7 linked regions of the Homo sapiens genome follow. The protein of the gene in region 3 purifies or fractionates together with the protein of the main gene of each other region. This does not show direct contact. Each region holds a gene or a part of one and is shown on either strand. Other genes may lie near its edges.

Region 1 (2,459 bases), on a different chromosome or scaffold from region 3:
CTCCAGATAACTACAATGTGCAGGTATAGTCAATAACCATTGGCCCAAGAAGATACTGATATAAAAAGGCTGATAATAGAACTAATGGTAGAAAGATAGTAAGCCACTTGCTAAAGTCTTCTAAGAATTAGGGAGAGAAGTATGAGATCACTTGTATGATGAATTACAATAAGGTACGGCAACAGGTGTCATAGTCTAATGGGAGTCAATGTGCTCAACAAAGAGCATTTGCAAGTGAGAAGAGCGTATATTCATACGCACACACGTTTAACCATTTTGTGGACAGATAACAAAAATAAACTTTGGCTTCATTTCTTATTATTTTGAACTAAATGGAAATAAAAGTCAGTTAAGAAAGGTGCCTGGCACCTATGTTCAGGGATTTGTCCATATCCCACCATGATAAAGTTTGATTTGAATAAACTTTACTTAATTTTAGAATTAAGAGTATCCCTAATATAAAATTATAAAAACCTTATTTGTAAGAAAGAGAAAATAAATAGGCTAGAAAGTTTATTGGCAAATCTAGGTCAAGCTCCATAATTTAAAATTATTTAAAACAAAATCAAAAACATCTATAAAAGGTCAGAACATTCAGTATTTTAAGATAAAATTTTTTCAAAACAATATCATGGTTATGAAAACAACATTTGGCAGGCTATACATTTTTAAATTATAGAAAACATTAAAAATAAAATATCTAACAAAATATGTCTTGCTGTTGCTTTTGGGGAAAAGGTGGAGACAAATATTTTTTATTTTATTTACATATATTTATTAAAAGATTTCCATATGGTATTGCAAACAGTCCCATGTCTCTTGTATTTTGCTATAATATATGAATTCACACAAAGGAGATGGGATACATAAAATTACAAAGGTGGTAGAAAAGCAAACCAGCCCACATCCTAATACACACTAAAAAGGGCATAATTCAGATATATAAGCCATATTAGTTTTAGAAAAAGAGCACTGCCCACCCCCAGGTATACACACACACACACACACACACACTTCACTTTATTAAACCACAAGAGGAAACAAAATATATCATAAGTAACTGATCATTCACTTTCCTATGTTAGTTTTTATGTTTTTCAATCATAATGAAATATATTAAGAACAGATTTTCTTCACGATTGATTTTTGTATCTGATATTCTTTTTTGTACTTCTGTTGTTTCATTAACATAGGTATACACCCAAATTCTTTAAAATTACAACTTTGAAAATTAATTGTAAAAAGCTGTTTTCCATGTATATTACACAGTTCGGCGTTAAAAATGGCATTTTGGGGAACTGGTAAATTATAACACACAGGCTTAGAAGAAAAAGAGTGGTATCACTGAATGTATATTGGAATTTAACAAAACGTTTTACTGTATTTACCCCATATATTTTTCTTTTTTTTTTTTTCTGAGACAGAGTGTTACTCTGTCACCCAGGCTGGAGTGCAATGGCATGATCTTGGCTCACCGCAGCCTCCACCTCCCGGGTTCAAGCAATTCTCCTGCCTCAGCCTCCCAAGTGGCTGGGATTACAGGTGCCCGCCACCAAGCCCAGATAATTTTTGTATTTTTAGTAGAGATGGGGTTTCACCACATTGCTCAGGCTGGTCTCAAACTCCTGACCTTAGGAAATCCACTCGCCTCGGCCTCCCAAAGTGCTGGGATTACAGGCGTGAGCCACTGCACCCGGCCTACCCCATATACTTTTATACTTTGAAACCTTAGATTAATACACCGAGGAATTTTATTTCCTAGAAAAATGTCCCAAATTTCTGTTCTATTGTTTTATACAAAACTCTGCATATAGCTTTTAGTTTGCTTTTGAATTTGTGTTACATAGAGTCCATATGATGATAGTTAACATTTTACATAATATATAAATGTATCTTTCTCATCATAGTTCTTCTAGATGGCAATAACACGTTATATATGGTAGTTATTTTACCAAGACCTCTGCTATTATAAGAAGACTAGACCTGAATATATTCCCCTTGACAACAGACAGTAGATCTATGAATAATTTTAAGAAGAAAAAGTTAAGCATGACAGCATAGCATCAAAGTTGATAATTCTTTGTGAATACATTAAGATATGGTCTAAACATAGGCATGACAACTAAAAACAAGTACTGTAAGAATATTTACATACACATATCATGGCTTATTAATAAACAGATTATTAAAGAATAATGTGAATACATTATATTAATTCACAGTATAAACATACTTTTAGTAATTTAATTCATGAATAATAAAAATATAGATACATTAGGCACTATTAATACATATTCTTGTTCTGTCATATATATGAAAATATACATATAGATATAGTTCTTTTAAACCAAACTTTTTAACATATTCACTGATTTAAATAAAAGTTGACAGAGGTAGAATTTGTGTCCATGTTCATGATTTTCAGCAACAAGTACTTCAAATATTTCATTACTGTTCTG
Region 2 (3,500 bases), about 33 Mb from region 3:
ACGCCCAGCTAATTTTTCTATTTTTAGTAGAGACAGGGTTTCACCATGTTGGCCGGGCTGGTCTCGAACTCCTGACCTCAAGTGATCTGCCCACCTCAGCCTCCCAAAGTGCTGGGATTATAGGCATGAGCCTCCACACCCCAGCCTCAGTAATTTTTTTTTTTTTTGAGACAGAGTACTGCTCTATCACCGAGGCTGGAGTGCAGTGGTGCCATCTTGGCACACTACAGCCTCCACCTCCTGGGTTCAAGTGATTCTTCTGCCTCCGCCTCCTAGGTAGCTGGGATTACCGGTGCCTGCCAACATGCCTGGCTAATTTTTGTATTTTTAGTAGAGACGAGGTTTCACCATGTTGGCCATCTGGTCTTGAACTCCTGATCTCAGGTGATCTACCTGCCTTGGCCTCCCAACGTGCTGGGATTACAGGCCTGAGCCACCGCGCCTGGCCTAGTACAACTTCTTTAAATCATCACAAAGAGGACCAGGTGCGGTGGTTCATACCTGTAATCTCAGCACTTGGAGGCTGATGTGGGAGAACTGCTTGAGGCCAAGAGTTCAAGAACAGGCTGGGCAACACAGTGAGACCCCATCTGTACAAAAAAAATAAATAGAATTGGCTGGGCATGGTGGCACATGCCTGTAGTCCCAGCTATTCAGAAGGCTGAGGCAGGAGCACCACTTGAGCCCAAGAGGTTGAGGCTGCTGTGCTGTGATGGCACCATGGAACTCCAGCCTGGGCAACAGAGTGAGACCCTGTCTCAAAACAAAACAAAACAAAAACAAAAACAGTTGTGAAGGGCCTCAAGCTTTCTTTGATTTTGGGCAGAGCTGTGACCTCTCCTTCTGTTCAACCTCCTTACAGAGTTCAAACATCAATTCCCCACCCAAGTGGCCTGCTTCCTTGGGTTGCAGAGATGTTCTTTACATCTCAGTGCCCACTATCAACTACTTCCTCGGTCTCTCTCTTCAATTCAGATGTATCAAATATTAATTTCATTTTTGCCCCCTCTTTAACACAACTTCTGGAAGCATCTCTTGGCCCAGAGCCATTTAGGTAAATTGAATAGAAAAGGGCCACCTCTGTTTGCCCTTGAGAATGCAGATAACAGGGATCTGACAACCCAGGCAACAGCAGTCCCCCATGGAAGAGCAGAGAGCTCTTCACCACCACTCCACAGGTTTCTGGAGACCCCGGAGCACTCATCAAATCCAGCGTTGGTGATAATGACATTTCAGTCAACCACGGACTGCGCATATCAGTGGGTGCATACGATTATAATGGAGCTGAAAAATTCCTATCACCTAGTATTTACATTGTATTTTATTTTTCTGAGGCAGGGTCTCACTCTGTCACCCAGGCTGGAGTGCAGTGGCACAATTATGGCTCACTGCATCCTCAAACTCCCGGCCTCCCAAGTAGCTGGGACTACCGACCCATGCCACCATGCCCAGCTCGTTTTTTTTTTTTTTTTTTTTTTTCTTTGAGATGGAGTCTCACTCTGTCTCACAGGCTGGAGTGCAGTGGCGCAATCTCGGCTCACTGAAACCTCTGCCTCCTGGGTTCCAGCAATTCTCCTGCCTCAGCCTCCCGATTAGCTGGGATTACAGGCATGCACCACCACACCTGGCTAATTTTTGTATTTTTAGTAGAGACAGGGTTTCGACATGTTGGCCAGACTGGTCTCAAACTCCTGAACTCAGGTGATCCGCCCACCTTGGCCTCCCCCAGGTAGTTATTTTATGTAGAGACGTGGTCTTGCTGCCTTGTCCAGGATGGTCTCAAGCTCCTGAACTCAAGCAATCCTCCTGTCTCGGCCTCCCAAAGTGCTGGGATTACCCATGAGCCACCACCACACCTGGACTGATTTTAACTTCTAGTTTCCATGTACCTGCTTATAGCTAATTCCTCTGATCCAGCATAAAACTTGGCTGTTCTCTACACCAGTCTTTCCCTTAAGAAGAATAAAGGCTGGACAAGGAGAAATCGGCCTCTAGGCCTCACACAGGCTACCTGAATAACTGGAGCTAGCAGCAGATAAGGTCAGATGGGTCAGATGCTGCTACTGACATCACACTCTATCCTTGGGACCAGAGTTTCAAAGTGGTGCTAGTGGTTTAAACTCAAAACACCCTTAGCATGACCAGACTTGGAGGAGGCTGTCCACCAGACTCCTGCCAGCTGCCCCGCCTCACAGAAAGGCCTATCGTCAGCCCTCCTGGGCCACTGAGAACTCAGGACATCCACCTCCCACCTGTAAAAATGCAAAGGATCACAGGCAAGGCTCCCCTGTGGGAAGAGGGTGACTCCCAGGGAGGAGCATGCTTCGTGCTTAGACATCTCCGTATACCAGCTCAGCCACCCAAGGAAAGGAACAAAGTCAAACAATGCTTATCAAGTCCTTGTGATAACACAGAAAAATGCCCAAATAATATATCATAACTATGTAATAAACTAAGATAACAGATGCAAGCAATAACTGCTATTAACATCTACATTTGTCTGAATGACATAAATTGGATGGGTTTTTTGTTTCAACTCTTCTGTATTTATTATACTCTTACCTGTTCCAAAAATCATTTGCAGCAGCTTGGTTTGAATTTTCCATTGATAATACTTTTACAAAACACAACCTGGCTGTAGCCATAACTGCCTCCAAGAGAGACAACTCACCCCCCTTCACTCTCAGCATCTGTGAACGTGGCTCCCGAGGAGGCCGTGAAGTAGACAGAGCTGGAGCCAGTGGAGTCACTCCTCTCCCGGACAAACGGAAACCTTCGCCGCCGAGCCACTCTCTGGTTCTCTTCCATGTGGCATCTGGAAAGCAGGCCCCATCCCGAAGGGTACCATTAGGTCCCATCCAGCTTGTCTTTCTGCTCACCATGGGGTGCCTCTTACTACTGCTCCTCATTAAAGGGCTAAAAGCAGAGAAAATCCTAAGTCTCTAACCCTCAGGAGGGCAAGCAGGGCAGCTTCCTGGGCCCAGCCCGCACAGACAGACTAGGTTAGGCAAACAGAGCGCTTCAGCTGCTACAACAGATCAACCATGAGAGTCCAGAAGCAGCAAGGAGCATGTGCAAGGCGAGGTACCAAATGTACAGCTTCAACCCAGATTAGGCTAGAAGCTATAGAACTGGTTTATTCTTTAGAGACAGACAGCGAAGGCCAGAACACACCCCAGCTGAAAAGCTGCAGGGGAGGGATAAAGCAGGAGAAGAAGCCGCATTACTCACCGGACCTCCCCAACAATCTCCCCCGCAAGCCCTCGCAGGCTGCTTCTCAGCTCCTCCACCTCCCGCCGCAGCGCCACAAGGCTGGTCAGCACAAAGTCCAGGCGGTCCAGCACCTTCTCCTGTCCTTCCCGTGGAAGGCTGGGCAGCACTGAGGCATCTCCAGCCCCACCTGGGACAGCCCGCAGGAGCATCACTGAAGGGGGAAACGAATGGGAGCCAGTGACACACAGGAATATGGTGGGGAAGAGATCTCACACCCAGAATTCAAG
Region 3 (3,500 bases):
GGCCAAGGCAGGTGGATCATCGGAGGTCAGGAGTTCAAAGATGAGGCTGGCCAACATAGTGAAACTCCATCTCTAAGAAAATACAAAAATTAACCCGGGCATGATGGTGGGTGCCTGTAATCCCAGCTACTTGGGAGGCTGAGGCAGGAGAATCGCTTGAACCCAGGAGGCAGAGGTTGCAGTGAGCTGAGATCACGCCATTGCTCTCCAGCCTGGGAGATGGAGCAAGACTCCATCTCAAAAAAACAAAACAAAAAAAAATTGGCCAGGCGTAGTGGCCCACGCCTGTAATCCCAGTGCTTTGCGAGGCCAAGGTGGGCAGATCACAAAGTCAAGAGATCAAGACCATCCTGGCCATGTGGTGAAACCCCATCTCTACTAAAAATACAAAACTTAGTAGCTGGGGTGGTGGCGGGTGCCTGTAGTCCAAGCTACTCAGGTGGCTGAGACAGGAGAATTGTTTGAACCTGGGAGGTGGAAGTTGCAGTGAGCTGAAATCGCACCATTGCACTCCAGCCTGGATGATAGAGGGAGACTCCATCTAAAAAAAAACAAAACAAAACAAAAACAAGAAAAAGGAAGCCACAGGGATCCCACTCCACTGTCAGGAGGTCCAGACTGGGTGTAGCAAAATTGTGAAGTCAGCCAAGTACTACCTATATCCCACTTCCCCCTCCTCCAGGATATACTCCCACCACTGCCCTATTTGGGGGCAAATGGCCAGGCAGGGGAGCAGGGGGCGACTGATGGACATTAGCCACTACTACAGAGTCACATAGAGCCAGTGTGGGGTGCAGGATCCCATGGCTGTGTCAGAGACCCCTAGCTCTGGCCCTCAGTTTCTTCCTCTGTGAAATGCGAACTATTCCATAGGTTTCTTTTCCCTGACTGTTGAAAAGATGAGAAACTGTGAGCCTGAAAGTGCTCTTGCCATGACAGATGAAATGCAAGCCTCAGAGGGAGAACTGTTATGTCCATTCTTAGCACCAGGTAGGCCCATTCCTGGTCGGGGACTGCCCCCTTCTCACTCTCAGGGTGGGGCGGAATGCAGCTGGCCCCTCTCCCCAGAGGAGCCCCTGGCACTCATCCTGTGAACCAGAGCCCTATCGCTGATCAGCACCAAATGGCTGAGGATTTCCTGGGGCTGATAGAGGGGCTCAGACCCTTGGTTCTCAGACGTGAGCTGGGAAGAGCTGGCCATGGCCTGCGCCATCCCTGGATTTCCACACTGGTGGCTGCACCCTGGCTAACTCTTTAGGGCTCCAATCTCACCATGAGCTTGAGGAATAAGCTCTACATTGCAGAGCCTCCTAGGTCTGCTCAGTCTTATCCAGATCATATCCCCTGCAGCTGCTCCAGACCGGCCTGTACAATCTCACTGTATGTCCACAGCCGGGGCTGGATAGCACCTCTTCAGGCAGGAGCAGTGGGTGCTGCCAGGCCTGCTGCTCAGGCCCCCTCCGGACAGACGCTGGGGGGCTGTAAACCTGCCTTAATTGAAATATGCAACAGGGAGGCCCCCAAGGAGCGATGTCTTTGCTGTGCTGCCAGTCCCACCTCCCTGCTCTGAGCGAGGGGCTGTGAATCAAGCTGCAGTCAACTTCTGACCTCGAGCTACTGCGAGGGACCAAGCAATGGAGTGTTTGTGACCCAGGGGTGGCTCCCAGTTGGATGGAGGTGTCTTCTTTGGCCATCCCACTCAAAGCCCCTGTGCCCTGGAAATCACTGGACATCTGGGTTGAGGCCACACTGACCACAAGGCATGTCCAGTGCCTTCAGTTTGTCAAGTGCTTTCACAGTCACCATCTCGTCGGAGCTCCACAGCAGCTGGTGAGGTAGGTGAAGACTACCAGACCCATTATACAGAGGAGGTAGATAGGCTCAGAGAGGCAAACGGACTTGCCAAGGTCACACAGCTGCTAGCTAGCAGAGCCAGGCACAGCCTGGAAATCACTAATTCTTGGGGGCAGAGTAGCACAGGCTTTGTGGCTTTGGGGCAGGTACTGAACTACTTTGAACCTCAGTCATCTCATTTGAAAAATGGGGATAGGTGGGGGCACAGTGGCTCACGCCTGTAATCCCGGGACTTTGGGAGGCTGAGGCTGACGAATCACTTGAGGTCAGGAGTTCAGACCAGCCTGCCCAACATGGTGAAACCCCGTCTCTACTAAAAATACAAAAATTAGCTAGGCGTGGTGACGCATGCCTGTAGTCCCAGTTGCTCTGGAGGCTGAAGTGGGAGAATTGCTTGAACCTGGCAGGTGGAGGTTGCAGTGAGCCAAGATCGCCCCACTGCACTCCAGCCTGGGTGACAGAGCGAGACTCCATCTCAAAAATAAAAAAAATAAAAATAAAAAAAGAAAGAAAGAAAAAGAAAAATGGGGTAATAATACTTCCTGTCTCATCAGGTTATTGTGGTGATTAAATGAGATGCTGCTATAAAAAGTATTCGGCATAGAAGTAGCATAGAGACCTGCTCAATAAATGTGAGCAATATAATTGTCATTATTATCCCAAGGATATTCAGCTGCTGTCCCTGTGCTGGCCATGCCCCAGATGAAGCCCTGGTACCTCTAGGCTGTAACCTCATCTTTGTTCAGGACCTGCTGAGATGGGCTCAGGGGCTGGGTGTGGAGACATCGGGACGGAGTGGGGACCACTGGGCTCCTTTCCAAGGCTGCCCACCTGGTGAAGGTGGCCAGGAGCCTGTCTACGGCCCTAATTTTTAGCCCCATGGAAGTGGCTGCCTACTTCCTCGCACAGATCTCAGGTCTGCTTAGGGCCACGCCAGGACTGGCTGAGGCTTTGCCCTGAGGTTTTGGTCTTGGTCTCAGAATCAGGCTGAGAATGGGAGCTGAAAGGATTGGGGGTGGTCCAGACCCTCCAATCAAACCCCTGCCCAGCCCAGGCGATCCTTCAGGCTCTGTGGATGCCCAGCATCCCAGCACGGAGGCCTGCGCCATGGGAGCAGCTTGCCATTCCCCTATGTCCCAGGCAACCCTAAGATGGAAGGGGGTGAGGCAGGACTGTGTATAGCCGAGTAAGTCTGCCTTGGAGTAGAAGGATGGTGGGTGCAAGTGACGCAGGGCCTGGCCAGACTGATGCCACCCCCAGGCCCTGAGTCCTGCAGTCTCCAGACCACCCCGACTGTGAACCCTGGCCTAAAGGGACACCACTCCCTTTAGAGCCCGCCTCCTGCAGGGGAGTCCCCTCTAGGACATGGCCCTGGCCATCAGCCAGACTCCACCACAGAGTTCAGGGGCTAGCAAAAGGAGGATCAGACCTCCCATCAGTTTTACATACTTTCAGATACCCCCTTCAGGAGCCCCGCAATGAGAACGGAGGAAGGGCAGTCCTGCCCACACCTCCTGGGACCTAGGAGGCCAATGGGCATCTTCATGTCTAAGAGGAGCTCTGTGAAAGCTTTGGGGCCTGTGGGGCCAGATCCTTAGCATTTTTAAATTTTATTATGACTTCATTTGTTTAAATATATATATATA
Region 4 (3,500 bases), on a different chromosome or scaffold from region 3:
TGGCCAACATGGCCAAACCCCATCTCTAGTGAAAAATACAAAAATTAGCCAGGTGTGGTGGCACATGACTGTTGTCCCAGCTACTCGGGAGGCTGAGACAGGAGAATTGCTTGAACGCGGGATGCAGAGTTGCAGAGAGCCGAGGTCGCACCACTGCACTCCATCCTGGGCAACAGAGCGAGACTCCATCTCAAATCAATCAATCAATCAACCCTCTTAATTTTTTTTCTACCTGTGGCCACCTCTCCTCTTGTCTGATTTTCAGTTATTTCTGACTAGTGAAACACAGTTGCATCAGTATCAGGGCATTGATTGCTCAATTGAATAAGTCATTTACTGGCCTTTTCTTGTATGTCAGGGGCTGTTTTGGTTTGAGCATGGAGCTAGCAGAGCGAAGGACTGAGGCTTGCTTAGGATTGGGGGTGCAGTATACACCCAACTGCCCCGAACCCTAATCAGCTTGTGTGGTCACAAAATAAAACACTTGATAAAATGGGAAGTGCAGCGGAAACTCAGCTTATACCTCCTAGGAAAATTAGTCACCGTTGTGCAGTCAGTCACATGGCTGGATGCTGGAATGTGCGGTCCCTCCTTCCACCTTGAGCCTCAGCTTCTGCATGCCAAGGTTAATACGCAGAGTCTCCTGTGAGCCATGTGAGGAGGTAGCCCTCCACGAGGTTGGGGAGAACGTAAGTGGAACTTCTTAGCTGAGGAAGATGGCACATTTACTCAAGACTCAGAAGACGCAAGTGACCAAAGATTAAGACGCCAAATCACAGGCGCGCGGGCAGGGTTGTGCGGCTGTGCTTGGCTGCATGCGGAAGATGAGGTTGTGCTCTGACTGAATAAGGAAGGCAGCTACAATTACAGCTTTAGAAAAACTCTGGGGAAAATTGCCCTGGTTTTGTGAGGACTGGTATTTTTCAAACTGCATTTGCAGATGTGCCTAAAAATAAAAACAAATTGCGAACATGTCCTGCAAGTCCCTTGGGCAGGATGCCACTGCCAAGGGGGCTGGGTCCTGAGACCCTTGAGGCTCCCAGCCGGTCCTGTGAACCCAGAGACCCGCGGCACCAGAGTGGATGGCATGGGAACATTCCTCCTGTCCTCAGGGAGAGCATTTTATTTGGTTTCATCCCCCTCCCTCCAGTTTCTATGTTTCATTGGAAAGAAAAGTTACTAAACCTTTTTAATCTTTTAAGCCATTTTATTTAATTTGCAGTTCTTAAAAATTCACTATTAAAATGTACTTTAGGCTGGGCGGGATGGCTCACACCTGTAATCCCAGAACTTTGGGAGGCCAAGGCAGGTGGAACTTTGAAGCCAGGAGTTCAAGGCCATCCTGGCCAACATGGTAAAACCCCGTCTCTACTGAAAATACAGAAATTAATCAGGCATGGTGGTGCCCACCTGTAATCCCAGCTGCTTGGGAGGCTGAGGCAGGAGAATCGCTTGAACCCAGGAGGCAAAGGTTGCAGTGAGCCAAGATTGTGCCACTGCACTCCAGCCTGGGCGACAGAATGAGACTTTGTCTCAAAAAAATAAAAAAATAAAATGCACTTTAAACATCTTTTCCTTAAAAAAAAAAAAAGAAGCTTTATAATAGGTAACTTTGAGTGCTATGTGTCAGACACTTTCTCCTTTGTAGTTTTCACAAAAACTTTTTGAGGTGAGGTAGATGTGTCCAGCTCCTATTACAGAATACAGCTTGGATGGGTAGGTAAACAGCTGGCCTGGTGTTAGATGCTAAATATTTTAACTCGGTTAAAAACCTTTTTGGGCTGGGTGCAGTGGCTCATACCTGTAATCTCAGCACTTTGGGAGGCCGAGGCGGGTGGATCAGCTGAGGTCAGGAGTTCCAGACCAGCTGGGCCAACATGGTGAAACTCTGTCTCTACTAAAAATACAAAAATTAGCCGGATGTGGTGGTGCATGCCTGTAATCCCAGATACTTGGGAGGCTGGGGCAGGAGTATCACTTGAACCCGGGAGGCAGAGGTTGCAGTGAGCCGAAATTGTGCCACTGCACTCCAGTCTGGGCGACAGAGCGAGACTCCGTCTCAAAAAAAAAAAAAAAAAAGCCCTCTTTGAAAACTGGGCTGGGTTAAGGGTCAGGTGTGGTGGCTTGCATCTGAAATCCCAGCACTTTGGGAGGCTGAGGCCGGAGGGTTGCTGGAAGCCCGGAGTTTGAGACCATTTTGGGCAACACCTGGAGACCCTGTCTCTACAAAAAATAAAAAATTAGCTGGGTGTGGTGGCGTGCACCTATAGTCCTAGCTACTCACAGGCTGAGATGGGAGAATCATCTGAGCCCAGGAGTTCAAGGCTACAGTGAGCTCTGATCATACTGCTGCACTCTGCCTGGGTAACAGAGCAAGACCCCCATCTCTGGGGAAAAAAAAAATGAAAAAACTGGATTAAAAGCCAGGGTTTCATGCAGTTCCATCTGACTCCAAAGTTTAGTAAAGAATTCCATTTTTTGGAGGGTCACCTGCACTAATTCCTGCCTTGGTCACAGACTGGCCCATCTGGCTTGTTGACTTGCTCATGCACCTGCACCCAGCTCACAGCTTAGCAGGAAGAGGGAAAGAAAGCTGGGAGGTCATGGCCCATTCCTCAGTCCCAGCTTCCTTGGAAGGCTGGAATGAAGCTCTCATGCCGGGAGTCTCCTGAAGTCCTTCCTACTCCCTGGTCTCAGCTGCATCCCTTGGGCAGCACAAATCACCCCACCCCCGCCCCGTTCCCTATCTGCACAAGAAGCAGTGCTGGTGGGGACTGTGTGGGTTGACATATGTAACACTTAGAACATGAAGCCTGTGCCACATGAATACTAACTACTGTCCCCCTCTTCTAGGTTTAATTTTTAGAAGTCAATGTCACCTGTAGCAGAGAAGTTCCTTGAAATCAAATCAGACATATGGCAATTGTGAAAAGATTGAAGTAAGGTTTAGGTCTTGGTTAAATTTTTAAAATCCTTGAGTTTGTTTTGTTAATGACTGAGCATATTCTCTCCACTTTACCTTTTGTGTGTGGCAGGGGCCACACAGCCACCATCCCTATTGTTTCAGGTTCCAATCACATTCCTGTTCTGGGGCCCACATTCTCAAGGGAATCTTCTGGTAGTGAGAGTTTGCTTCAGTTTGCATCTGGAAACAGCTCTTAGGGGTAAGGGGGATTTGCCCCTGAGTGGCATGAGGTCAGGGCTGCTGGGGCCAGGTCTTCCTGGACTGGCACCTCAGCACAGTGGCGAGGACATCTCTGATCTAGCAGGGTAAAATCCGGAGTCAGCTGGCTGGAATTTGAACCTCCAGGTTGCAGGAAGCCCAAGTACTTCCCATTTCTGGGCCTGCCGCTTGTCCTGTGTGACTCCCCGGCCCACAGGCCTCTGGCAGCTCTGATTAGGCTCACGCTGCTGTCCCAAAAGACCTGGTCTGTCTGCTCTCTCCACAGCAACTGACTATTCAAAGAACTTGATAGAAAGGTACCCCGGGCCACTCCCAG
Region 5 (3,111 bases), on a different chromosome or scaffold from region 3:
CTGCTGGAAGCGTCGCCGCCCAATGAGTCCATACACCTTGCCCTGCCCACTTCGGTCCAGCAACATCAGCCCGTTCTCCGTGCCCACCAGCAGGTTGACCCCTGCAACAGGAGCCCTTGGGCAGGTCAGAGGCTCAGCCAGGCCCTCACCTAACCAGGAGCACAAGAGCCACGCCAGAGCCTCCTCAGCTGTCCCTGCCCTGGCTTACCCCAAAGGGCTGCACAGAGGATCTCGGAGTTGAATCGCTTCTTGTACTTCCGGATCTCAGGGGTCTCACTGTGGGCCCGGGTGTTGGTGGGATTCACGTTGACCACAGAACCCTTCCTCACGTCGTACTGCAGCTGGTCGAGCCGAGTGCCCTCTCCACCCACTAGGGCTGCCAGAAGGAGGAGGAGGTGGGAGGAGGGGCTGCAGCTTCTCACCCCATCTCTTTTTACCTCCATCCCCTATATCAGGTCTTGGCACCTCATAATACGCAGAAAGGAGGAGAAAGACAGGAGGAGAGGAGGTGCATGGGAGAGGGGGATAGAGTGCTGGACTTGGAGTCAAAAGGTCTGGCTCAAGTCCCATTTCTGTCACTTGTTAGCTTTGAGTCTTTGCCCAGGTCCCCTGGCAACTCTGAGCATTTCCTGTCCTGTGGGACAGGAAGGAGGGGTCTCAGAGGCTCTTCCTTGCCTCTGTGCCCAGGCAGGTGCTAGGGCCCAAGGGAGAGGTCCTGTGGCTATGCTTTGTGAGGCTGCGTCTCAAGACCACTGTGCTCCCCTCCAGGCTGCCCCTGGACCCTGGCCTCACAGCAGGTCTGTCCTCCTGTCCTCACCTGTGATGGGGATGCTGTCCCCACTGCCTCCAGGCTGGTAGATCCCTAGATCCACAAACATCGTGAACGAGCTCTTGCCAGGGGCCTTTACCAGCCCACGAGACTGGTACTGTGGTAGGGGGACAGCAGTCAGGCAAACAAGTGCAAGTCCAGCTGCGGCCCTGCCCCTGCTGCTGTTCCCCAGGCTCCAGCTCCCCAACTGGCACCCCCGCTGTCCAGCTCCCAGCGCTCCGCCCCATCCTCTGCCGTTACCCAGCACCGGGACCTCCTGCCCATCGCCAGGGCTCTTCTCTCCCGGCGGACCTGCCTCCGGCCCACTTACGTCACCACTCCCATCCTTCGAGGGTGGGCTTTGGCCTTTGCTGTTCTCGGTGGGTGAGTGGCTGGGCTGGACCACGTCAGGCAGGTTTGTGTACCCATTGCTGTCAGCATGCAGCAGGTTCCGCTCCTCTTCAGGGGTCTACAGGACAGAGGGCAGGGTTGGCGTGGGGCTGAGGAGGGCACACACAGGTACAGGGGAGGGAGCAGAGGCTCACTCACGCGCTGGACCACCATGGTGCCGCCCCCGTATGGGGGCTGGGTCCCGGTGATCTCCTCGACGTCGTGGACCACCATGGTGCTGACGCTGTCTGTATCCCCATCGCTGCTGTGAGAGAGGAAGGTGGGGCCCCTCCAGGTCCTGCCCGTGGCCACAGAAGTGCCAAAGGCAGCAGATGGCAGCCAGAGCCCAGGCTTTTGTCTCTATTCAAAACACAACCTGCTCCACCCTCACGGTGTAGCCCCTGCTCCACCGTGAGGTGCTTCCCTGCATGGCACACAGGGCAGGCTGGCACAGGGGCAGACAGGCACTTGAAGAGGCCACCCCACAACACACAGGGCAGCGGGAGAGAGACAGGAACCTGCACCCTCACCCCACTCTCTAGAGAAGGGAGCCGCTCTCCCTCAGACTTGCCCCAAAGCCCCACCTCTTCCCCACTGCCACTTCCCCTCCCTCCCTGTGCCTTGGAGTGGGAGGGCCCCACTCCCGATGCCGTACCGGCCCCCAGGGGTATCTCTGCTCCCCTCTGCTGGCCCGCCTTCGCCTTCCTCCTCGTCGTCCTCACTGCTTTCCACCTCCTCGCTGGACGACGAGTAGTCCATGGCCTTCTTGGGAGGCCGAGGGGCCTCGTCCAGAGTCCGCTCTTTCAGCAACACAAAGTCCTGCAGGGAGGAGCCACGTGAGGGGCAGGGAGAAGCTGGGCCTGGGTGGAGGTAGACAAAGGGTGCCGGGACACCCCAGCAGGGCGACAGGAGGGGCTCCCACAAGCAGGCCCATCTCACTAACCTCACCAATTGCTCGCTTATAGCTCTGGGAGGGGCCGCAGGGGAAGAAAGAGCCAGAAGAGAGGTTAGGAGAGAGGTTAGGAGAGAGGTTAGGAAAGGTTAGCACCATGAGAAGCACCAGTCCCTCCATCCCCACAGCCCTTCTCGGTAGATCAGCGGAGACCCCACCCCTGACACCCAGCACCCTGAGGCTAAGCCCCAAACCAGGATGAGGCAGGCCATGCCTGCCACCAGGTGACTCACTGCGGGCCGGCCTGGCCGTGAGCGGTGGTCGTCGGGCTTGGCTTTATTCCCAGGGGAGAGCACAGGGGAGCTGTCCGGTTTGGAGGAGACTGGACGGCAGGGTGGAAGAAGGTCACTGATGCCTGAACAAGGGATGGCCTCAAGCCCACACCCTGAGCCCCAGAACTCAGCCCCAAGTTCCATACCCACACAGGTCCTCCCTGTCCGTGTGGGTGCCCCAGTCCAAAGCCACCAAAGGCAGGGTCCATGGTGATAAGCCCCCAGGCCCAGAGCAGGCTGCCCAGCCCTGGCTCACATACCTCCCACGCGGTTCCGCTCCAGTGAGCCAGCCTGGGGGAGGTGCCCGTGAGAGGCTGGAAGGACGCTGTCCGAGCGTTCCCAGCCAGGGTCGCTCCTCCTGAGGTCGGGGTTACTGTTGGGGGGGCAGAGTCAGGGTCAGGGAGGCACGGTGCTCCCTTCTCTGGGGTGCTGAGCTGCACTGCAGAGGGAGCCATCACCAGGGAAGCGGGTGGCAGAAGTGAGAGGTGAGAGTGAGTTGGGGGACAACTCTATTACCTAGAGGCGTTGGGCGGGCCAGGGGGCTGAGCAGGGGGCCCTGGAGGCTTTGGGGTGCCCCGCTCTGCCCGCCTTTGCAGATAGATTTGCCAGGCGGAGTTGCTGCGAGGTCTGTGAAGGGAGCACAGGGGTGCCGAGGGGGCGGCGGGGGGGCGCTGAGGTGATGGGGCTGG
Region 6 (3,500 bases), on a different chromosome or scaffold from region 3:
GTGTAAATCATTATATATTGTAAATCATTGTGTGTGTGTATATCTCTTTCTCATTTTATATATATATGTATATGTATATACATATATATAGAGAGAGATACCTGTCAGATATGCTTCAAGAACAAGTATGTCTTTATTACCATTAATTCTTTCATCAACTAGCTGAGCATATTTAGCAAAGACTTAATCAGGTCGTGCACCGTGGCTCACGCCTGTAATCCCAGCACTTTGGAACCCGAGGTGGGCAGATCATGAGGTCAGGGGTTCGAGACCAGCCTGGCCAACATCATGAAACCCCATCTCTGCTAAAAATACAAAAATTAGCTGGGTGTGGTGGTGGGCACCTGTAATCCCAGCTACTAAGGAGGCTGAGGCAGGAGAATCACTTGAACCCAGGAGGCGGAGGTTGCAGTGAGCCGAGATTGCACCACTGCACTCCATCCAGCCTGGGCAACAGAGCAAGACTCTGTCTCGGAAAAAAAAAAAAAAAAGACTTAATCAACTTCCTCTAGATAAATTAATTTTTATCAGATTTATCGATGGTGGGAGCCTAGGAAGGAGAAAGTACACATTTACACTTCTCTATTTCCCACATTGTGTAAAATATTCAAAGGTAAGGACAGGTGGTCTCATTCTGCTGTGCTTCTCCCATGGCATCTACTGTGACATCTGACATAATTATTTGCATAAATACTGTCTTAAGAGATCAATATTGACTCTATTTTGAGTTACTGCCATGTCTACCCCAAATAGCAAAATATATGGATAAAAATAAAAATATTCAGTTGGTTACTGCGATTCAATCCAAATATTGAGCTAACATTAGAAGTGACTATACAAAATCTGGAAGAAAATAAAGATGGATAAGACATGGCACCTGTCTCTATGGGCCTCAGAATTTATTGGGAAAGACAGATTGACAAACTATTCACAACAATTTGGCACAAATCAGTCTATGTAAGTGCTATGGAATAAAAGTGTGAAACACTAAACAGAAGCACTTTTTAAAAAAAAAAAAAAATCAAAGTCCTTTTAAATCTGAGTCTAGTTTCTTTCTCTCCACAGTCTTTGACCAGCAATGTGCTTAGGGATCTCAGGATCAGAAGCCAGACCAGCCAGAATCCTCAGTACTCAAGAGCTTTAAGACCTTATGCCAGAGCCCAATGTTACTCCAAAACCTTGGCAAGAAAGGTGCACTGAGATTTCAAACTCCGGAATCTATCTCTACCCTTTGTCTGATTGGGAAGTGCTTTGAGACTGCAAGCCTAGGTTCTTTGCCTGCTTCTTTCCAGGACCTCACATGTCCCAATTTGCCTGGGATAGTGTCAATTTAAACCATTTGTCTTGGTGTTTAAATGTTATGATAGTCTGTTTCTCTCAAATTTGGATAAAAAACTATGTAGTCACCTTACTGATGAACAAAGTGCTGTGCAGACTTAACCCAGGATTCTATTTACCCACAATTGCTAAGTAATAAATTATTCTAAAATCTTAGTATCAGGTTTTTTTTTTTTCTATTCACATACTCCTATCACTAAAACAGTATTTGTGTGCAAAAGCCATTATCTTGAGATGTGGCCATAGTTGAACATTAGCTGATACAGTTTTATCTTCTTGTGCCACTTGGAACTACAAAGACAGCAAATAAAAAAAGAGTAACATGTATTTGAATATATACACCTTGAAATCCATTACAGTTTCAATGTACCATTTATGTATTGTTTACCTGTTTATTGGTGTCAGCCACAGTTTCATCCTGAAGAAACTCACTTGGTACCTCAAGTTTTATTAAAAAACGAGCTAAATATGCTCTTTTCTTCAGTTCATTAGTCCTCTGAAGAAGCCAGTGGAGCACTGGGTAAATTACAGGTTTACTTCCAATCACCAAACCCTGACGAAAAGTACTCCTAAGAGAGAAACACACATACACAAACACACACGCACTTAACGGTAAACTTTGAAGAGAGACAGCATTTTCTCAAAATCTGATTTACAATGTCCAAATTGCTTTCTGTAACTTTTTAAAAAAGATAAACCCAAGGAATCTTTTTTTTTTTTTTTTTTTTTTTTGAGACAGGGTCTCACTTTATTGCCCAGGCTTGAGCACAACGCAGCTCACCAAAGCCTTAACCTCCTGGCTCAGGTGAACCTCCCACCTTAGCCTCCCAAGTAGCTGGGACTAGAGGCACCAACCACCATGCCCAGCTGATTTTTTGTTGTTGTATTTTTTGTAGAGGCAGCGTTTCGCCATGTTGCCCTGGCTGGTCTCAAACTCCTGAGCTCAAGTGATCCTCTCACCTTGGCATCTCAAAGTGCTAGGATTACAGGTGTGAGCTACCATGCCTGGCCCCAAGGCTATTCTAAAGTCAGTCTGTACATTAGTTAGAAAATTAGAAAAATTTGGCCCTCAATATATCATTGGCATATCCAAGGAAGTTGTGTTTAAGCTGTTTTTATCTAGGATGGCAGATAAAGGATAAAATGGTATAGTGGATTTACCAGACAGTTTGATTAAGGCAAAGAACTGACCCTCTTAAGACTTCTGAGTTTGTTTATAGAAGGTTTAAGATTATTTTGAAACTCAGTGATGTTCTCAGGCCATCAAATGAGGGAAACCAGGTATTACCTACAAAGATTGATTGCAGTATATGAAGGTTTGGATATTAAAGCATAATTTTAAAAACTCAATACGTGATCAGATTCTTACATATCTGTGGCATTTCCTGAAGGTTTGTACTTAAGAATACCAAGAAGGCTCAACATTCGTTTGGCTGTCTGCTCTGGCATCTCCTCTCTGATATCCACAAGTTGCTAACAAAGAAATTGAAAAAAACATGTTATTGTTGTATATGTAACAAAGGACAATATTTAAACTCACTGACAAAATTGTTCTGCTAGAGCTTAACAGCACAATGGTCTCTTCATAAAACAGATTAAGGATGGAGGCCCCCAGATTCCAAGTGAGGGTACACCCAAGTCAGATCAAGATTCACATTAAGAATGTTAAGCTTCAAAAAAAGTATCCAGTGGAATGGACCAGTGTATGAGAGACATGAACTAACTTGCAATACAATAAAACCTTTTGTAAAAGAATTTTCATTCCCTAACCAAACCTATTTATGTCTGGAAGTGGATAAATAATTTTGAAATAAGGTACCAATAGATAATTTATTTTTGAGCTAGCAGAGAAATGTTATGCATTATTTACTATTACTTTACAGACATGGAAAATAAAGCTCAGAGAGGTTAAATAATGTGCCCAAGACTCACAGCTATTTAGAGGGAGAAATTGGCTTTCTGCTACCCATCAAAAAGAAAGAGAAAACTCTTACCTTTGGGTCAATCTCAGCCAGAACATCACTGAGAACTTGTAATAGTTGCATTGGCTCCAAGGAATCAAACGTGATTAAATTATAGTTCTTCCTAAAGGGCTCCTTATTGAGACTGTCCATAATGAATTTAATTTGATCACTCATAATTAGGTCTTATAATTTTAACTA
Region 7 (3,500 bases), on a different chromosome or scaffold from region 3:
TCTTTCACAAGAGAGGACATAGTGTTAGTGATGGAATCTGCAGCCACTAGCAAGTCATTCCTTAAGTTTCTTCTTGAACCTTCAGGGAAGAAGAAATAATTTAAAAAACCAAAGCTTCCTTCTATCCTAAATTTTTATGTTGTTTATTTATCCTTCCCATTAATAACCTAAAGCAAGAAAACTTCTAAGACTTCTCCTTTTCAGAAGTGCTTTAGTTCATTTCCTGAAACAAGAACAACAACAACAACAAAACACTGCTTAGGGCAGTGGGTCCTGCAGTAAGAAGACATGGCTAATGATGGAGTTTCATATATTATTTGTCCATATGGGGACAATTTTGAAGGTGAAAGAGAGCAGTATGAATAAGGCTGGCTGACCTGGCAAAACTGGGATGGTTCCAGGTAAACCAGTGCGTGTGGTCACCCTTCTTAAGAATAATCCACACAGATGAAAAATCAGGTTTTCCAGGAGAGCTGCGCCTTCCTAGCTGCTATTATTTTTCTTGCCCTTACCTGGTGGCTGAGCCCTTTAGATTCTGGTCTCTACTAGGACATGCGCTGTCTCCTATCAGGGCTCTTGGAGCTCTTCCTGCCAGTGTAAGTACCACTTGGGAATGGGAAACCCACATGCACTGAATGCCCCCAGAGCGTGAGAAAGGGGTGAGGATTCTTGTTTCTTCTGCCAAGACATGGGCAGATGCATGTCTGGTACTATAAATTGGAACTTAGACTATGTTTCTTTATGGCAGAGAAAGATTATTATTTTGTTTCAGGCACACTAAGGGTTAATGGAATTTCATTCCGTCATTTTTCAGAAAGTAATACTAACTAAATAAAATAATAAATGTTTAAATTAAAAAAATCAGAGTAGTTAAGTAAAAACATTAATTATAATGGAAATCACAAATTGATTTAAAATATAGTACATTTCTTTAAAATATGATTAAGAGAAGGGATATTTTCTTTCTAAAAATTAAAAGTTATTTTGTGAATTACATTTTTAAAAACTCTTGAGTTATATTCAGTGCCTAGAAGAAAAAGTTCTAATATAGATCCTTCCTTTTCCCTCAGAGTAGAGAGTTCATCATTCTCTCTCATTGAAGTGTGTTAAGATTTTATCACCCCTCTACATGGACGAGAGTACCTTTTTCCTCGCACTTTTGCTATCCCTGGATATTATGATGTTTCAAAACATTTTTTTAATCTTCTAGGCAAAAAGTGATACTTATTAAAATTTATATTTCTGTAATTAGAGGTTGAACATCTTTTCATATATTTATTGGCAATTTCTCTTTGTTCTTCTGTCTATTCGTATATTTCACCTGTTTTTGTTTTGGTGGTGTCTATTCTTTCTGATCTCTACATGATTTTTGTATAACTGAAATTATGAAACTTGATTGACACATATACTGGAAATGGTTTCCTCAAGACTGTTTTCTGTCTTTTAACTTTGTTTATGATCTCTTTTGCCTTAAAACCCATATTCAAACATGTCTCTCTTTTCCTTAGATCTCTATGTGAAGACTTCGAAGAATGTTAATGATATATTGCTAATTTAAAGAAAATGCAAATTGCAGACCCCAAAATGCAATGCATGATCCTATTTGTGTGAAAAAAAGAGTATGTGTCTATAATCACATCCTTAAACATATCTATTTACACAAAAGCAAAACTTTGGGAAGGATCAAACTGTTAATAGTGGTTACTTCTGGGAATGAAAGCTGCCGGTGAAGGTCTACAGAATGATTTTTTTATTATTATTCTCTATAAATTTAAAAAGTGATAGTAAGAAGAGGTTTTAAAAAGTGTTAAAAATATTTCTAAATTAATAAAGTTACTCTCCCTGTCATGGGAAAGTGCTGGCTGGCATCCCCATCCCTCTTTGTACTCCTCTAACTGCAGAGGCTTAACCCTGTAGCCCTGCCTTACAGAGGCAATGATTCAACTCTTCGGGGCATCAGAACAGGGAATCTGTCAAATGACTAAATGTCCTTCTTGGTTACCTCATTGCTAAAGAGCTGTGATTACTTATCTCAGTCTTGACTTTAATATAAAGAAAAGACAATATGAGATAAGAAAATCTCTAAGAATTAAAAAAAATAGATTACATTTATGAAGTTTTCTGGGGGTATTGGTGAAAAGATTTCCTGTCTTTTGATGAACAAAGACTTACTAAAAAATAAGGCAGGGCAACAAAAGCCAAAGGAAGGTAAAATCGTGAAGTGAGAACAAATTGGTGTAGGGAGTTCCCAAAATGGCTGGCAGGCCAGGCTCTGACACCAGCCATGAAAGACCCTACAATAGTCACATGTGGTTCTGACAACTCTTGACCACTCAATAGACCTTGGTGACCTATTTGCCACATAAAAGCAGACCACAACAAAAAATAAAGCCACTTACTTTGTGCAAATGCCTCTTGTACATCTCCCCCTACTCCTGTGAGGGAGTCCTGCGGCGTGTGCGTCGGGGTGGAGCAGGCTGACGCTGACCGGATGGGCATGGGAATTGGCCTGCTGATGGTGTGGCTGGGGGAGGAGCGGGGAGAGCCTGCCCCCTGAGTCTGGAGAGACAATGCAGGTCATTAATTTGCTTTCCCAAGAAAATGTCATATGTCATCCCCAATGCCTCAGTTGATTGTTGAAAACAGTGACAATGAAATTTCAAAGCAGGAGGAAATCCTAGGTAATTGTGTTGGTAATCCTAAAGCTAATTTGCAGGTGCAGATAATTTAGGACCTTATTGTATGTAATCTGAAGTTTGGGTTAAATATTGAAAGCTAAAACTATTAGTACAGCATTGCTCTACAGTATATGGGACATGTGCCCATAAAATGAAGGTACTGTTAAATGCAGATAATTACAAGGTGTGGATACTTTCTCCTTGAAGGAAGGTCTCCGAGGACTAAGAAGACATTAAGGAGAAAGTTTAAAATACAAACTAGAAGACTATTTGCAATGGATGCTTTCTGAATTTTCAACCTGACTGTACTAGCATTATCTTTAGAGGATAAGAGTTTAAATCATGTCATACAATATTGTGCATATTAAGTCTCAAATTAAGAATCAAATGAAGTGTAAATTGTTTTATCCCTATTTTATAGTAAAAGCTGATTTTGTCAAATTAGTAACTCAGGGATTCCAATGGGGAAGAAGAAGAAGAAGAAACCTTGTTTTCTAATTTTTTGGTATTATTTCCTGCAGGAAATGTCCTTCTCTTCTCCTATGAAAAAGCAGTATTCTAGCAGGACAATAAGAATAGTAGGATTTAAAGACAAGTAAAGAAAAAAGTAGAAAACAACTGAAGGAACTTATCTTTGCACTACAGTTTTTGGCATGAAACTATTCTGAGACTGTCACACTTTGAATCTTAAGGATTTGTCTCTAAATGAGGTGCCTTGGAAATATTCTCCCTGTTTTAATAATTAGTTGACAAAAGAAGTCAGCCACATGCGTAAGAAAATGCAAGGAGACCCTTGAGTGCATACACAACAGATTAGGTGTT

The links.
Region 1: the proteins of INSYN1 (region 3) and CEP135 purify together in Homo sapiens (affinity purification with mass spectrometry; one large-scale study listed by BioGRID and IntAct). This does not show direct contact.
Region 2: the proteins of INSYN1 (region 3) and RMDN3 purify together in Homo sapiens (affinity purification with mass spectrometry; one large-scale study listed by BioGRID and IntAct). This does not show direct contact.
Region 4: the proteins of INSYN1 (region 3) and BEND3 purify together in Homo sapiens (affinity purification with mass spectrometry; one large-scale study listed by BioGRID and IntAct). This does not show direct contact.
Region 5: the proteins of INSYN1 (region 3) and MINK1 purify together in Homo sapiens (affinity purification with mass spectrometry; one large-scale study listed by BioGRID and IntAct). This does not show direct contact.
Region 6: the proteins of INSYN1 (region 3) and IFT81 purify together in Homo sapiens (affinity purification with mass spectrometry; one large-scale study listed by BioGRID and IntAct). This does not show direct contact.
Region 7: the proteins of INSYN1 (region 3) and DTNA purify together in Homo sapiens (affinity purification with mass spectrometry; one large-scale study listed by BioGRID and IntAct). This does not show direct contact.

What each region holds. Positions count from the first base shown.
Region 1 is NC_000004.12:56,031,403-56,033,861, reverse strand, and holds the end of CEP135 (centrosomal protein of 135 kDa), read right to left. Parts: 3' UTR 501-2,459; downstream 1-500. UniProt on the Homo sapiens protein: Centrosomal microtubule-binding protein involved in centriole biogenesis. Acts as a scaffolding protein during early centriole biogenesis.
Region 2 is NC_000015.10:40,748,755-40,752,254, forward strand, and holds part of RMDN3 (regulator of microtubule dynamics protein 3), read right to left. Parts: intron 3,425-3,500; coding exon 3,232-3,424; intron 2,917-3,231; exon of another isoform or gene 2,816-2,916; coding exon 2,672-2,815; intron 1-2,671.
Region 3 is NC_000015.10:73,736,352-73,739,851, forward strand, and holds part of INSYN1 (inhibitory synaptic factor 1), read right to left. Parts: 3' UTR 1-3,500. UniProt on the Homo sapiens protein: Component of the protein machinery at the inhibitory synapses, probably acting as a scaffold. Inhibitory synapses dampen neuronal activity through postsynaptic hyperpolarization.
Region 4 is NC_000006.12:107,105,516-107,109,015, reverse strand, and holds part of BEND3 (BEN domain-containing protein 3), read left to right. Parts: intron 1-2,853; exon of another isoform or gene 2,854-2,939; intron 2,940-3,500. UniProt on the Homo sapiens protein: Transcriptional repressor which associates with the NoRC (nucleolar remodeling complex) complex and plays a key role in repressing rDNA transcription.
Region 5 is NC_000017.11:4,892,340-4,895,450, reverse strand, and holds part of MINK1 (misshapen-like kinase 1), read right to left. Parts: intron 3,050-3,111; coding exon 2,939-3,049; intron 2,796-2,938; coding exon 2,683-2,795; intron 2,473-2,682; coding exon 2,384-2,472; intron 2,166-2,383; coding exon of another isoform or gene 2,142-2,165; intron 2,018-2,141; coding exon 1,854-2,017; intron 1,464-1,853; coding exon 1,358-1,463; intron 1,278-1,357; coding exon 1,140-1,277; intron 927-1,139; coding exon 818-926; intron 377-817; coding exon 209-376; intron 116-208; coding exon of another isoform or gene 102-115; coding exon 1-101. UniProt on the Homo sapiens protein: Serine/threonine kinase which acts as a negative regulator of Ras-related Rap2-mediated signal transduction to control neuronal structure and AMPA receptor trafficking.
Region 6 is NC_000012.12:110,127,357-110,130,856, reverse strand, and holds part of IFT81 (intraflagellar transport protein 81 homolog), read right to left. Parts: intron 3,498-3,500; 5' UTR 3,477-3,497; coding exon 3,333-3,476; intron 2,812-3,332; coding exon 2,708-2,811; intron 1,908-2,707; coding exon 1,727-1,907; intron 1-1,726. UniProt on the Homo sapiens protein: Component of the intraflagellar transport (IFT) complex B: together with IFT74, forms a tubulin-binding module that specifically mediates transport of tubulin within the cilium. Binds tubulin via its CH (calponin-homology)-like region.
Region 7 is NC_000018.10:34,874,298-34,877,797, reverse strand, and holds part of DTNA (dystrobrevin alpha), read right to left. Parts: intron 2,560-3,500; coding exon 2,400-2,559; intron 80-2,399; coding exon 1-79. UniProt on the Homo sapiens protein: May be involved in the formation and stability of synapses as well as being involved in the clustering of nicotinic acetylcholine receptors.